2 separate regions of the Homo sapiens genome follow, and region 2 is linked to region 1. A link means that fine-mapping ties the variant in region 1 to the expression of a gene that starts in the linked region. Tissue or cell type: whole blood. Region 1 holds a variant in brackets; the other region holds the start of a gene. All regions are shown on one strand. Distances are between the middles of the regions.

Region 1 (8,107 bases):
GCCCTCACCAGATGCAGCCTCTCATTCTTGGACTTCCAAGCCTCCAGAAATATAAGCCAAATAAACTTCCATTGTTTATAAATTAACCAGTCTGTGGTATTCTGTTATAGCACCATAAAATGGACTAAGACAAAAAGCAAAACAAAACAAAAAATAGGACATACTAAGAAACCTAGAAAAAATATTTATTATACAGTGGATATAATAGGCTATGTATTGAGGGTATATTGAGGCATCTTCTCTTTAAAAGATTAATTACAATAACATGGATGGCTAAAAATGCCATTTTTTGTTTTTTTTTTTTGAGACAGAGTCTTACTCTGTTGCCCAGGCTGGAGTGCAGTGGTGCAATCTCGGCTCACTGCAAGCTCCGCCTCCCGGGTTCACACCATTCTCCTGCCTCAGCCTCTCGAGTAGCTGGGACTACAGGCACCCGCCACCACGCCCAGCTAATTTTTTGTATTTTTAGTAGAAATGGGGTTTCACCATATTAGCCAGGATGGTCTCGATCTCCTGACCTCGTGATCCGCCCACCTCGGCCTCCCAAAGTGCTGGGATTACAGGTGTGAGCCACCACGCCTGGCCTAAAAATGCCATTATTAAGTGCCTTCCACAACACAGATTTGGTCCATTGTCCAGTCCTATTCATTATGTGCTTGTGGTACATAATGTTGTCCCTCTCCTCTAAGACCAGTGCCATTCAAGGTTTTTGTGAATGTCTGTGTTTTTGTCTGCACAGCATCCATTTCTCATTTTTCTTGTGACAATACTCAAATTTTTTTAGGGTAAAAAAATTTTACCTTCATTCCCACTCCCTTCCCACTCTCCATCCATGTGTTATGAGTAAGTCACCTCCCCTTATCTCCAAGGGTGGGCATGTGTCCCAGGCCTATTCAGTCAGGGTATCCCACTATTCTAGCCCATGGGTTGGTTCAGTGATGGGTTCATGACTCATTCAATGTCAATGAGACTCAATTATGAAACTTTTGTGAGAACAAATGGAAGAAGGTCTCTTTCTCCTAGATATCAAGTTTGGGCAATCTAAGCCTGACAGTGACAGTGACCACGACATGGGTAGGGTCAGTCTGATGCCAAATTCCAACAGAAAATGGTAGAACTGAGAGAGAGTGGGAGAGAGAGAGAGAGAGAGAGAGGGAGGGACTCTTGACATTTTTGAACTCATTTATCTAATGAGATTGAAGGCCCCTGGTGTTTTCGTTGTTAAAATCAATAAATTCCCTTTTCCCTTAAGCTTGTTTAAGTTGAGGTTTCTGTTACTTGCAGTCAGAAAAGCCCTGACAATAGTTATATGTTTTTAATATAAAACAATATTTTTAAGAAAAAATAATTATCTTTCTGATGGTATAAACATCTTGACAAAGGAATTCTTCCAATGTCTCAGAATTGGATCAAAGGAAATTTCTCCTGAACCCATTAAAGGTCACAATAATGATTCCCATTATTGAATGCTTACCATGCACCAGCCGTGCTCAGTGCTGAAACTTAGAACCTCTCATTCCATCCTCACAATAGTGAATGGATGAGAAAATGAAGGCCAAGAGCCAGAATTTCAACCCAGGTCTGCTTCAGTTTAGTCCACGGCCTCAATTACCTCTCCTCCTGGATATATTATGCTTTATTCTAGAATCTGATATTATAAAAAATTCATATTAGAAACATGCATAGTTAGGTGTCAGTTTAATGGTAACCTTTTTAAAAATTCAGCTGATTCGCTCTAAAACATAAGCAGAAATACTTAAAAGGATTCATGGTCCTAGTGAATATTAATATTAACATCAAATAAGTTCAATCCTTAGCCCTTCCTCTCCTGTTCCTGATCCCGCTGCTGTCTTCCCAACATTGCTGACACAGTCCCCACTCCATCGAGTACTAAGCACCACTCACACAGGGCTGTTGTAGAGCAGGATGTCACAGCACACAGATTTTAGCTACCACAGTTTTTGAATTTCTTCAGCCATTCTTGCCCCTGAAATTCTCTTTGGTTATTTTGCTTTAGGGACATACATACCAGCATCCTGGAAACTTTTTCTCAACTCTTCTTTAAATCCCAGGATTCCTAAGCCTCTCAGCCTGTAAGCAATCCTGAGAAAACCAAAGCTTCCCAATATTTGAATATGCAGTGTAGTTTAGACCGCCTGTCGCAGTCTTTCCCATGAAGAGTAACTCATGGGTTTATCAAAAATTCCATTATATTTTCCTTTTCTTTTTCTTTTTCTTTCTTTTTTTTTTTTTTGAGACAAAGTCCCACTCTGTCATCCAGGCTCGAGTGCAGTGGCGCTATCTTGGCTCACTGCAACCTCTGCCTCCCAGGTTCAAGTGATTCTCCTGCCTCAGCCTCCTGAGTAGCTGTGACTACAGGTGCTCACCACCACACCCAGCTAACTTTTGTATGTTTAGGTAGAGACAGGGTTTCATCGTGTTGGTCAGGCTGGTCTCAAACTCCTGACCTCAAGTGATCCACCCGCCTTGCCCTCCCAAAGTGCTAGGATTACAGGCACAAGCCACTGCGCTCCACAAGCCACTGGCCTCCATGATGTTTTCTTGATAAAGTAATCCTTCTGGTGGGTTTCTAACCTTAGCAATATAGAAATCAAGAAGAAGCTTGAGATGATTTTTTAATATCTTATTTTCTAATTGTACTTGTTTAAGTAATGGTCTGAGAGTTTTCTTCCATTTTTCCCAGTTCCTATTACAATCTAGAACATATAGTAAGAAGTTAATAACGGTCGTTAATGGAGTGTTCACCAAATGACCAACTTCCTTTTTTCTCTGATGCTGTTATATAGACTTAATATCTTCATAAATTTCCCTCTGGGGTATGCAGCTTGGAGGACAGCTACACTGAGTTCAACCTTATAACCTCTGCAATCTTCCAAGAGATTTTTAGGTTAGTGCCCCAAGAATGCTGAAAACTTGAGCAAATCTAGACATGATACATCCACAAAGAGCGAAGAATAAGCCTAACCCCATCTTCATAGGCTGTGGGTTTTCATTCCCACCATGTCTGAACACATAGCTGGGAGATGGGTGATGCCTGGGCACCCATATTTTGTAAGGTTTCCCTTGAAAAGATTCTGATCATCACTAAATTTTCAAACAGCATTTTAGTGGTTCAAATGGT[G/A]ACAAAAAGGTGATACGTACAAGTGCCTTTATTTCTGTGTGGGAAGTGGATGCTCCGTAGTATCTTCTGTCTATTAAAACAAGGCAGTCTGAGGAGAAACCGGAATTCAACTGCTCAGTGCTTTGGGCACTGGAGATAAAAACATTTTTAGATATCATTATTAATAATTCATAAATGAGAGAACTTTACCTGACCAAAGGAATTGATTATTTTTTTATAACTTATCTTTAATTTTGTTCAGCATCTTTATTTTTATGTGTTAATTTTTTTTGAGACAGAGTCTTGCTCTGTCACCCAGGCTGGAGTGCAGTGGCACAATCTCAGCTCACTGCAACCTCCGCCTCCTGGGTTTACGCAATTCTCCTGCCTCAGCTTCTGGAGTAGCTGGGATTACAGGTGCGTGCCACGATGCCCAGGTAACTTTTCTATTTTTTGTTAATAGAGACGGGGTTTCACTATGTTGCCAGGCTGGTCTCTAACTCCTAATGCAGGTGTACCATACATTCACTTGGAATGATTATTTTACACGGTTAATGGCATCCCAATTCTCCGTGATATGAAAACCATTGCTTGTACCCCAGCCCCAAGTCCATGCCCTCCTCACAGGCCTCACCTAAAGGCTTATGATCAATATAGAATAGCTCTTTTCACAAATCATATTACATTGTTAGCTTGGGAGTATGTACATTTACATTTAACATCTTTGTGTTTAATTTAGATTATTTTATCTGATGATAGGGGAATGAAAGAACAAGTTTGGCCTACAGCTTCTCTGTGATGGTGATGGAAATTCAAGATGAACAAAGTGGCTTTCTCTCAGCAGATGTAGCAAGGTCCCTTGCCTCAGAATCTCAAGGAATGACAGATGAAAGTCTTCTCTCCCTTCCTGTGAGCTTTGCAAATCAGAAATGACATTCCTTTCCTGGGGTGTGATGCTTCTGTAAATGTGATTTTACACTTTTTAAAAGCTATGGCTTCTTGGTCTCATAGTATATTGCAGGGAGGTCAGAATCATCTGGGGAAACTTCTTCAAATGCATGTATACACCCACACACCCACCCACACACACACACACACACACACACACATACATACATCCCTCACTCCCTGGGCAGAATGCCAAGTCACACTGCCTAGACATCCTTCAGAAAAATACATCCATCAGAACTCTGATAGAATGCCAGGGGGATCTCTGCTTTGTGTTATAACGGGGTGCTATGCGTGTGGGGAGGGGATTGGTCCCACTACATCTGTAGGAAGATGCTGTATAATGAGGTTTCACTGTGTTTTCCTCATTTCTTCACTCTTCTGGGAGACGATGGCAGAAAAAACTTTATTACTTTCTGTCCAGTTTATTTGACTAGTATCCAAAATCTGTGCTTTATCATTGGTCATGGGAAAGCTGAAGAAAGGAAGAAGAATGTAAAGAGATAGTATGCATGGAGAGGATACTGATAATCTTAGAACCAAGGATTTCTATCATGGCTTTGTTGTTGTTTGTTTGTTTCTTTTTTTGCCAGCATGCCAAAAAGAACCTTCATTTACTTCTATAATCACCTCTTATGCTTTTTTGCCACATGACTTTGGAGCAGGTGCTTTCTGGGCTGCAGCTTTTTGACCCTTCTTGAACTTTCGGAGGAGGTGCTGCCTTCTGGCCTGTGGCTTTCTGGCAGGAAGCTTCTGGGCTGGAGCCTTCTTGTCTGCTTTTGAACCCCGAGAAAGCAAATGCTTTGGGCAAGTAGCTTAACCTCTTTGTGTCCTACTTTTCTTTTCTCTCAATGGGGATAATAATATACAGGTGGTATTACAATGATGCTATTGTACAAAAAAAAAATAGTGCATTAAAAACAAGGTAAAAACCCCAGCTGAGATTTTCTAAGGGCTTACTATGGACCAGGCACAGTTGTAAGCATTTGACACTTTCGAGTTCATTAACTCTCATAACATAAAATGACTGAATATACATAAGGTTCTCACATCAGGGCAGGGCACATGGCAAGCCCTTTTTAATTGTTAGTTGTGATTCTGAAAAACTGCTAAATAATAATCCGTATGATTAAACTTTTTTTTCCATTCTGATGGGCAGTTATCTCCTCATTTTCACTATTATGAATAGCGCTTTAGTGAACATCATTGTATGTATCTCCTTTGTGCATGTTTAAGAATTTCTGGGAGAAGGGAGCAGGGACATGGGAGAGTCTAGAAATAGAATGCTGTCATGCATTTAGCCTGTTTCCTTCATTCTGAAAAAGAAAATTAAGTAGTATATGTTTCCTCACCTCTCAAGAGAGCTTTAAAACATAAACAGATATTAGCCAGGTGTGGCGGCGTGCACTTTAATCCCTGTTACTTGGGAAGCTGAAGTAGGAGAATTGCTTGAATCTGGGAGGCGGAGGTTGCAGTGAGCTGAGATCACACCGCTGCACTCCAGCCTGGGTGACAGAGCGAAACTCTGTCTCAAGAAAAAATTAAAATTAAAATAAATAAATAAAAGATCACTTTTTTCTTTAAACATTGATTTGTAGATAGTATTTGAATTACAATGTGCTACACTAAACAGAGTGTACCAGTAGGATGGCTAATGGTGATTTACCTTTAAATTGTCAATTTGAATTAGAGGATAAATTTAATTGAAAAAAATTAGCATGTAGACAACATTAATTTGGGAAGGTGTGATTATCAGTTTCTCTGCCTCTGTTTTTTGTTGTTTTTTTTTTTGTTGTTATATTGTTGTTTTTGTTTTTGGCTGTTTGTTTCTGCAGATTGACATTAATTGCTGGCCTTGTGACCAGATACCGTTTTCCAGTTTTCAAGAGAAAGGGTGATACTTCAGGTGTTGTGACACATCTTAACGAGCTTTGCCAACTACTCTCCTACCACTCTTGTTCTGTATTTGAAGAACAAAGAGTGCAGATTTGAACAGGGCAGGTCCCAGCTCACCTGAATACCAGTGAGAATTAAATCTCAGCCCGTGTCTCTGATTGCCCAGTGCCTCTCAATTTGCTGTGATTGTGTGAAACAGATTGCCCAAGGAGCTGGCCCTGGTCACAACATGCCTCACAAACTGAAACAGTGACAGCAGGGGTGATTGATAGAAGTCCTTCTATGAGTAGCAGGTGCTACCCAGGTGAACCAAACTGTGGCCATTATTGTTTTGGGTCAGAATGCACTTAGTGTCAGAAACAAGAGCAGCCTTCTGAACTGTTCTGTGCTTCCTCTAAAGTAAGCATGCAGTAGTTTATAATATTTTTGTTTGCATTTCCCTGCCACTGGTGAAGTGAAGAATCTCTTCATACTGTTCTTTTGTATTTCTTCTTTATTGTGTGTTCTTGCTCTTTGCCCATATATATGTTTTTATAAATTAATGGTTTTTTTATAATAATTACTCAAATCAAATGTCATTTTCTTACTTTCCTATTTTAATTTCTTACTTTATTTCATTTTTTCATGGACACCTCTAATATATGACTTTATTTCTTTAATTGCACTTACTATTATTTTATTTTATTTTTAATTTTTAATACAAAGTTGAGACGGGGGTCTCATTATATTGCCCAGGCTGACCTCGAACTCCTGGGCTCAAGTGACCTCCCACCATGGCCTCCCAAAGTGCTGGCATTGTAGGCATGCCCCACTGCACCCAGCCTATGATTTTAAATTATCTTGTTATTTATTTCTTACCGTATTTGTTGCTACTAATTTGTTTATTCACTTCTTTATTAGCAAGGATCTTGCCAGTTTTGTTTGCCATTGTATTTGTAACAGCCTGGTTTATAGAAGACACAAAGTATTTGACAAATTAATAAATAAATTGCATTGTTGCTTTGATACCTATAAAATACAGTAGATACCTGAGATACATGATACACAACCAAGTATCTAGGGGATTGTGTAGGCACCAACCCCCTACACAATCAAAAGTTCAAATATAACTTTTAAGCCGGGTGCAGTGGCTCACACCTCTAATCCCAGCACTTTGGGAGGCCAAGATGGGCAGATCACTTGAGGCCAGGAGTTCCAGACCAGCTTGGCCAATGTGGTGAAACCCCATCTCAACTAAAAAAATAAAAACAAAAATAAAAAATTAGCCAGGCATGGTGGCACACACCTGTAACCAGCTACTTGGGAGGCTGAGGTGGGAGAATCACTTGAACCCAAGAGGCAGAAGTTGCAGTGAGCCAAGATCAAGCCACTGCACTACAGCCTGAGCAACAGAGCGAGACTCTGTCTCAAAAAAAAAAAAAAAAAAAGGGAAAAAGGCAAACATACCTTTAAACTCCCCCAAAACTTAACTACTGATAGCCTACTGTTGACCAGAAGCCTTACCAATAACACACACAGTTAACATATATTTTGTAGGTTATATGGATTATGTACTGTTATCTTACAATAAAGTAAGCTAGAGAAAATGTTATTAAGAAAATCATAAGGAAGAGAAAATACATTTACTATTCATTAAATGGAAGTGAATCATCATAAAGTTCTTCATCTTTGTTGTCTTCACCTTGAGTAGGCTGAGGAGGAAGAAAAAGGGTTGGTCTAGCTGTCTCAGGGATGGCAGTGGGGAAGAAAATCTGCATCTAAGTGGAACTGTGCAACTCAAACCAGTGTTGTTCAAGGGTCAACTGTATACCAGTATCTTGACACTAACAGATGGTGGATTATTGTGTGTTCTCCTCTAAATTAAACTTGAATGAAATCTGTTGCAAGCCCAGGTTTCAGTAGTTGAAGGAACCAAGGGAATTCTCTGGTGACAGTTAGCAAAAATGTTTAGCTGAGTTGTAGGAGTTTCAAGGCAGTAAGGTAGGAAGGTTTCCTGTTTCAACCAGATCAGCTCCTCGCTCATCAGCATTCCTTTTTTTCTTTTTTTGAGATGGAGTCTCTCTGTTGCCCAGGCTGGAGTGCAATGGCATGATCTTGGCTCACTGCAAACTCTACCTCGTGGGTTCAAGCAATTCTCCTGCC
Region 2 (8,107 bases), 60 kb after region 1:
ACTTCAGTAAGAGGTTAAAAATGGTTACCTTTTATTGAGCGGTCACTATATATGTCAGGCATTATGTTAAGCAACTTAAATGTGTTATTTAAAGTTTCACAGCTGAGCCAGGCACAGTGGCTTACACCTGTAATCCTAGCACTTTGGGAGGCCGAGGCGGGTGGATTGTCTGAGCTCAAGAGTTTGAGACCAGCCTGGGCATTGTGCAACCCCATCTCTACTAAAATACAAAAAAATTAGTGGGATGTGGTGGCGCGCACCTGCAGTCTCAGCTACTTGGGAGGCTGAGGCACAAGAATTGTTTGAACATGGGAGGCAGAGGTTGCAGTAAGCCGAGATTGCGCCACTGCACCTCAGCCTGGGTGACAGAGTGAGACTCTGTCTCCAAAAGTTTCACAGCTGGGCAAGGTGGCTCATGCCTGTAATCCCAACACTTTGGGAGGCTGAAGTGGGAGGATCTCTTGAGTCCAGGAGTTCAAGACCAGCCTGGGTAATATACCAAGATCCCTCTTGACTTAAAAAAAAAAAAATTTTTTTAAGTTTCACAACAGCCCTATGAAAAATGCATGCTTATTTTCCCCATTTTACAGATGTGGAAAATGAAACCTGGGATGGCTAACTGACTTATCCAAAGTTACACAGCTATTAAGTGGTAGAAAAATGGGGACAAAATAGGCTGTTTGACTCCAAAGCCACCCCTCTAAGCCTCCAGGCTACAATGCTATAAAAGTCTACCAAATGAAAATCATGGGAGATAGAGAAAAAAGGACCTTTAATTTTAGTATATATGCTTCCAAAGAGAGCATGAGAAAAGGAACTGCAACAGAAAATTTCGCATGGCCCAAGATCAGTGACCAGGGTCACCATTTATTGCAATTAAGTTAGATGAGTTAACTACATTGTGTGATTTGGGGGTATAAGAGGGGCCAATGTAAAAAGCTCAAAGGTGGCCGGATGCAGAGGCTCACACCTGTAACCCCGGCACTTTGGGAGGCTGAGGCAGGCGGATCATTTGAGGTCAGGAGCTCGAGACCAGACTGACCAGCATGGTGAAACCCCATCTCTACTAAAAACACAAAAAAACTAGCTGGGCGTGGTTGCGCCTGCCTGTAGTCACAGCTAATCGGGAGGCTGAGGCAGGACAATTGCTTGAAACCGGGAGGCAGAAGTTGCAGTGAGCCGAGATCGCGCCACTGCACTCCAGCCTGGGCAACAGAGTGAGACTCCGTCGAAAAAAAAAAAAAAAAAAAGCTCAAAGGTATCTTCAGGTCAGTCACCTCCTACCCCTTTTCTCATTTTATTTTCTTTATAGCATTCACTTATCAATTATTTATTATTGATAAGTGAAATTGTTTTATTACTAATATTTTATTAGTAAAATTATTTTATCTCTAATCATTTGCCTCACCTCACTAGACCATAACTTCAATAAAATCAAGAACCGTGTCTTTCTTACTAAATGCTGTATTTCCAGAGTCCGAAGTTGTGCCTGACATAAATATTTGTTGAATGAATGCATAAATGTCTGCCCTTCCCTGAACTTTAATGGCAAAGACTTAGATTTACAAACTGGTTCAAAAGACTATATTACAAAGGCATGCATTATTAGAAATATTTTATTGTTTAGTTTCTTAGATTGGCTAGGATACACTGAAAAAAGAAGAGGAAGCTGGAGAAAAGGGGGAAAGAGCATATGTACTGGTAATGATAACACCTAAGTTATAGGGGTTGGTGGGGGGGTGGTGAAACCTAAAAAATCCAGAGCCTTCATGAGCGAAGTGCCGAAAATTGATGAGGCTCTCTGGTGTGGGATAAAAACCACCACAAAAGCTAACTTCTCAATTTTGTCTCAGAAATTCTGCTACCATAAAGATTTATGGAAAGAAAGTGAAAGTTATTTAGTTCATTTTAATATGCTAATTACCTTGCATCGTGCACAGCTTTGATTAAAATGCAACATTCCTGAAGTTCTTATTGAAATTAATGTGTCAAATTTATGTTCAAACTGAGCACTGGTCTACCTTGTTTATGTATAGTGGGTTCTTCCTGAAGATCCATTATTGATGCTATTATGCTCCTTGTATCATTACATCATTGTTGAGAAGGGTGTACAGGAATAGGCTATGAGAACAACAAAGGAATTGTATATGAAAAACTAAAATGAATGAATAAACAGAGTCGTCTGCAGTATAGAGTGGGAAGGCAAATAATTTCAATGAGGTTCTGGAGGGCCAAGGAAAACATTGTATCCCCTAAAACGGAAGATAAAGTTGCTAAATGTGTGGATTACAATAGGGGATTCTAGGCAGTTTGAAGTTTCAATAAATGCAAGATTTAGAGAAGAGGTTCTCAAACTTTGTGGTCTTAGGATTCCTTTACACTCCTTTAAAAGTTGAGGACCCCAAAGAACTTTTATGTGCATTACTGATACTGATATTTATATCAGAAATTAAAAGTGAGAAATTTTAAGAGTATTTCATTTAAAAACAATAAAGCAATCAAATATTAACAAAAAATAATTTTTATATGAAAAATAACTACTCCCCCTTGCCCCCAAATCGAGTTTTTGCAAATCTCTTTAACGTCTGGTTTAACCGCAGATGACTGGATTCTCCTATCTGCTTCTATTTTCAGTCTGTTTCCTTATCACATGTCACGTAGCCTCCGGAAAACCCCACTGTACACTTGTGAGAGAATGAGAATGCAAAAGGCAGTCTTGACATTAATATGGAAATAGTTTTGACCTTCCCCATGAAAGGGTCTGGGGACCCTCAGACCATACTCTGAGAACAACTTTTTGAGTTAGTATTAGTCAATTCATCATCACTTGAAAATTAGCTATGAGGTTTTACAAGCCTGAGGATTTAATGTGATTTACTTTTTCAGAAAGATGAAACAACGGACGTACTGAGTGTCCTCATTATAACGCATCCAGAGAATGCACAAATATGCCATTTTCATCCGTCAAAAGAACTGAAGCCGAACTGACGGACTGTACATCAGTTACGAGGATGTGGCGGGGGGTTGGGGGGCAAAGGATGACGAGCACCCCCTAAAGGCGCGGAGACCCGCTGGCATAGGAGAAGCAAAACTGTCAGAAGAGGCCGCCGAAGTGGTCTAGAGGAAAAAACTGTTTTTCTTAGGCGGGGAAGGAAAACGGTTACCGGGGGCCGGCGAGTTGCAGGAATTAGGCCTTGACAGGGAGCGTCCGCCGTCTAGGCTGCGGCGAGCGAGGGACCAGGCGACTGGCGCCAGCCCTGAGCGTTCCCAGCACAACGCCGAAGGGGGCGGGGCGGGCCGGGCGCCGGGCACGCGGGCCAGGCCTTCCCCACAACTGATGGGGTTGAAATTTCCTTTCCGGCTCAGCAGGGAGAAAAGATATGGTGGGGTGCTTAACAGAGGAGGTTAGACACCGGCGGGAACCAGAGGAGCCCAAGCGCGGCGCCTGGGCCTCGGGGCTGCAGGAGTCCTCGGTGGGGGTATGGAGGTCGCCGGGGAAGGAGGACGGTTCAGTTGCTAGGCAACCCGGCCTGGACCCGCCTCTCGCTCGCGTTGCTGGGAGACTACAAGGCCGGGAGGAGGGCGGCGAAAGGGCCCTACGTGCTGACGCTAATTGTATATGAGCGCGAGCGGCGGGCTCTTGGGTCTTTTTTAGCGCCATCTGCTCGCGGCGCCGCCTCCTGCTCCTCCCGCTGCTGCTGCCGCTGCCGCCCTGAGTCACTGCCTGCGCAGCTCCGGCCGCCTGGCTCCCCATACTAGTCGCCGGTAACGGATGGGGGCCTGGAAGGGAAGGGGGAACGTGGTGTTGGCTGGGCGGCCTGCGCAGATGGGAGGGCCGGAGGGATGGAGGGACTGGGAGCCGGGAGTCGGGGCCGCTGGCCGCCCGTGGCCTCCGGGGTCGTCCTGTGAGGTCGGACAGGACCGCGGAGTCCGGACCCCGGAGCCTGAGAGGGGCCCCGGGGCCGACCAGCGCTTTTATCGGGGACGGCTGAGGCGACGTAGGGGTTGGCGCGGCCTGGAGGCCTAAGGTTCTCTGAGCTCCACCGTCTTTTCCGCGTGGACCGGAGCGAGGCCGCGGTGACGCCCGGGTGCCCTGAGACTCGGCTGCGCCGCGAGGACCGGGAGGCCCCCGGCGTACGGGCCGGGCCGAGTGCAGAGCCGGCCGCCTCTTGGACACCCCCCTGCTTTTCCCTCAAAAATAATACCAGGAGGGAGGCCGCTGGGAGATGAAAAGAACGGCGGAGGCTGCGAATTCCGACGGGAGGGAGGGGCTGTGGAGGGACGAGTCCCCGAGGCGGGGAGGGGGCGGGGGAGGCTGCGACGCTCCCGGGCTCTCCGCCCATTGGGGGCGGCCGCGCGGGGAGGGGAAACCCCCGGCGGCTTCGCTCCACACGTGGTAATGGGCTTCATGGCCACTGGCTGGGCCTGGTTGGAGACCCTTGCCCTCGGTCTGTGCTTACTTTGAAAGTTGTAGAGACGGTGGAATGTGAAAAGGAAGGGTAAGCGAGTAAGCCCTGTCCCTGGGTTTCAAACTCTTCCCTGCTTCTCTTTGGTCTTAATCTTTTTATTGGTACCAGAGATTGTGGATGTTAGCTGATGATAAGGAAGGGCCTCCACTGCTAGTATTTTAAAAAGTTAACGCGTATATAGCGCTTATATTAACTGTTATTAGCAAAAGGTTGTTATTGTGTTTCCCAGGTACTGTTAGATGGGTGTCTTGATCAGGGTTTTTTATTTGGGGAGTATTGATCCTGATCGATCTAAACCCCTAAACCAAGCTTGTCCAACCCGCGGCCCAGGACGGCTTTAAATGTGGCCCAACACAAATTCATGAGGTTTTTTTTTTTTTTTTTTTTTTGGAAAAAAAAGCTCATCAGCTAGTTAATGTATTTTACGTGTGGCCCAAGACAGTTCTAGTGTGGCCCAGGGAAGCCAAAAGATCGGACCACCCCTGCAAACGGTTCTTAGATGAAAATAAAATGTTTGGCCCTTTATGACTTTAATTGTTCTTGGCTGTCTTATAAATTAGTTCCTTTATTGAAGTCACTAGAATAAGATACTTAACGGTTTCCTTTTTAAGATGGGAGGTGGGATGGAATGAGGTGTTAGTATAAACTTTGCCAAGTTTGTAGCCTGCAACCTTGTCAATGAACCCTACTGCCCTAAAGATCTGGGGGATGGCAGTGTAGGGGGGCTGGGACTGAGGTCCCATCTGGGAAGGCTAGACTTTGAGAGTGCAAAAAGGATGAACCAGGCGCAGGATGTCCTCAAGGAGCCCGTATTTTAGACGGTCACTGATCAGTTTTGAAACAACTACATTTTAAAAATCTCACTGCTACATTTGAAGATATCCCACTGCTGCATTTTAAAATTTACACTGCTTGCCTGGTTTCACAAGAGCTGTAAAATGAAATTTGGCCTTTTGAAAATAGGTGGATTCAAAACATCTTTGGAAACGAGTATCTGGGTCCTCTTTTTTTGGTCAGCTTAAATTAATACTCCTATACTTTGGAAGTAATATACATTACCTTTGATTGAATAAGGGAAAAACCTTTTATGTATAGGGTACCATTTAAAAATCGAAGGGAAGTAAATGACTTTTACAGTTATTTTCAAGGCACTCTTGTGTTTCAAGCTTGTTTGAAGTTGCCCAAGTTTAAATAAATGGCCTAAATCTATAGTTTAGTTCTAAGAATACTGTCCTTTGGAGAATGTATGGAACTAAACCCTGGTAGGTGGACTTGGACATCTTCTGTCATAAAACCTGACTTTCATAGATTCTCCAAGTCAACATTATGTTAGTAAATAGAAATTTAAAAGTTTTCACTATACCAATTTGAATATCTTTCTAAATTTTATCTGCTACAAAGTGCCTATTTTTATATTAGGCCCATTGATTTGCAGAATTATAAAGCTAATACTGAATATGGTAAATTACTGCACTTGGCCTTTAATGAGATTTTTGAAACGAATACCTGTACCATAACTAATGTAATCCAAAATGCCATCTCATTTTATTCAGCTTGCTCCTGTTGGCTCCTGGTAAAACTGAGTTGATTCTAAATTCTCAAAATATATTCAAAACTAAGGGTCTTTTTGTAGAAGGGGCTAAAGAAGCAGTATCTGTTGGACTTCAAAGGTCTGAAGATGTCAAAATACAATATTTTATTCACTTCTTGGTTGTAAATTTGAAACAAAGGATTAGAGAGAATGACTCATCAATATCAAAATATTAATGATCAGTGTATTCAGATCTTCAAGTTTAATCAAACCTGTAATTGTGTTCTCAGTTTAGTCTTTGGGTAACTATCTAGCACCTGTATGGACATGTATCTTATGTCATGAGCAAAAGAGGCAAATTGGTTGCTTAGATGTAGAATGTTAAATTGTGATGAGAGCTATAAAGGAAGGAAAGGGTAAAGGGGTCAAAGAGTAATACAGCGTTTACACAAAGGAACCTGTTATAATTTGATGATTTTAAGTTCCATTTCAAACTAGTTTCATCTAAATAAGTTTTTGGGCAGAATAGGGGTTAGAAGGAGAGAGTTGTTACTTTACACCTATCCATATGTAAGTCGTTTAGCACAATGACTACAGAACATTAGAGTACATTAGTGGGCTTGCCATAGAAAATGGCTTCTATACCTTTGGTTACCAACTCTGCCTTTTACTTCCTGCATATTTGTATATATTTTTACTTATTCAGAAGTTTTGTACATTTTAATTTTTATTGGGAAACAGGGTTATATATATTTTTTCCTTGTGGAGACAGGCTCTTGCTGTGTTGCCCTGGCTGGTCTTAAATGCCTCACCTCAAGCGATTTTGCCTTGGCCTCCCAAAGTGCTGAGTGTATGGGTGTGAGCCACCACACCTGTCTAGAGTTATAATTTCAGTCTTGGAATTATTTTCTAAAGAGGGTACAGAAGAGCATAACAGGGATAAATAATGTAATAGGCAACACTGATTGATTATTCAGGCATTGTTTTAAATTCTGTGTGTATTATTAGCTCATTTAATTTACTTAGAGACAGGTAGCATCAACATTTTAACAAGGAAAAAAAATAGGTGTGGAGTGGTTAGATAACCCGTCCGTGGTTACGTACGTGAGCAGTGATAACTTATGATGAGATAATTTTTATCCTGGTTTTGAAAGAATGTTGACTTACACTGTTCTGCTATAAATCAGCATGAATATTAGTTCATTTTCTGTTGCTTAGAATACCTGAAACTGAGTAATTTATTTAAAAAAAAAGAATTTATTTCTTGCAGTTATAGAGGCTGAGAAATCCAAGATCGAGGGGACCCATGTGGTGAGAACCTTACTTGTGGAGACTCTGAAGGTTCCCAAGGCAGTACAGGGTATCACATGGGGAGGGGGCTGAGTGTGCTAACTGGGTAGCTTGGCTCTCCAGCTCCCCTGGTGGGAAACTGGGTAATTTATAAAGAAATACATTAATCCATGAATGGATTAATTCGTTTGTGAGGGTGGAGCCCTCATGATCCAATCACTTCTTAAAGACCCCCATCTCTCAGTGCTGCCACATAGGGGATTAAATTTCAACTTGAGTTTTAGAGGGGACAAATACTCAAACCATAGCAGCATGAAATTCAAAAGCACTCCACCTTGTATCCCACTGTGCTCTAGGGAAAAGCTGTATAGCAGTTATGGTCATGAAGTCTTCTTCCAGCATAGAATTTGTTTACATACACAGTCATGCATGGTTAATGATGGGGATGTGTTCTGGGGGAAATGCATCATTAAGCCATTTCATCCTTTTGTGAATGTCATAGAATGTATTTACACAAACCTAGATGGTACGGCCTAGTACATACCTGGGTTATATGGTATAGCCTGTTTGTTGTTCCTAGGCTACAAACCTGTATAGCATGTTGCTATGTTGAATACTGTAGGCAGTTTTAACTTTTTTAAAAATAAGTTGGAGTGTACTCTAACCACAAAAAGCATAGTATAGTAAATACATAAACCAATAAATCATTTATTGTCCTTATCAAGTATTATGTACTGTAAATAATTGTAAGTGCCATACTTTTATATGACTCTGCAGTAGGTTTGTTTATACCAGCATCACCACAAACATGAATAAT

The links. PIP is the estimated chance that this variant, and not a neighbour inherited with it, causes the effect.
Region 2: NAP1L1 starts here. The variant in region 1 is fine-mapped to the expression of NAP1L1 in whole blood (TOPMed, PIP 0.95).

The regions. Positions count from the first base shown.
Region 1 is chr12:76,140,495-76,148,601 of GRCh38, reverse strand. No RefSeq gene overlaps it. Among named protein-coding and RNA genes, the nearest start is that of NAP1L1, 60 kb to the right of the region's middle. The variant G/A (reference allele first, on the strand shown) is at 3,143.
Region 2 is chr12:76,080,225-76,088,331 of GRCh38, reverse strand. It overlaps NAP1L1 (nucleosome assembly protein 1 like 1), which reads left to right and starts at 3,647. Exons shown (of 15, transcript NM_004537.7): 1 at 3,647-3,765. LOC124902970 (a long non-coding RNA gene) reads right to left here and starts at 3,247. Exons shown (of 2, transcript XR_007063379.1): 1 at 3,165-3,247; 2 at 1,599-2,121. RefSeq lists silencers at 3,213-3,372, 3,813-3,892, 4,033-4,082, 4,153-4,212, 4,263-4,332 and an enhancer at 3,376-3,917.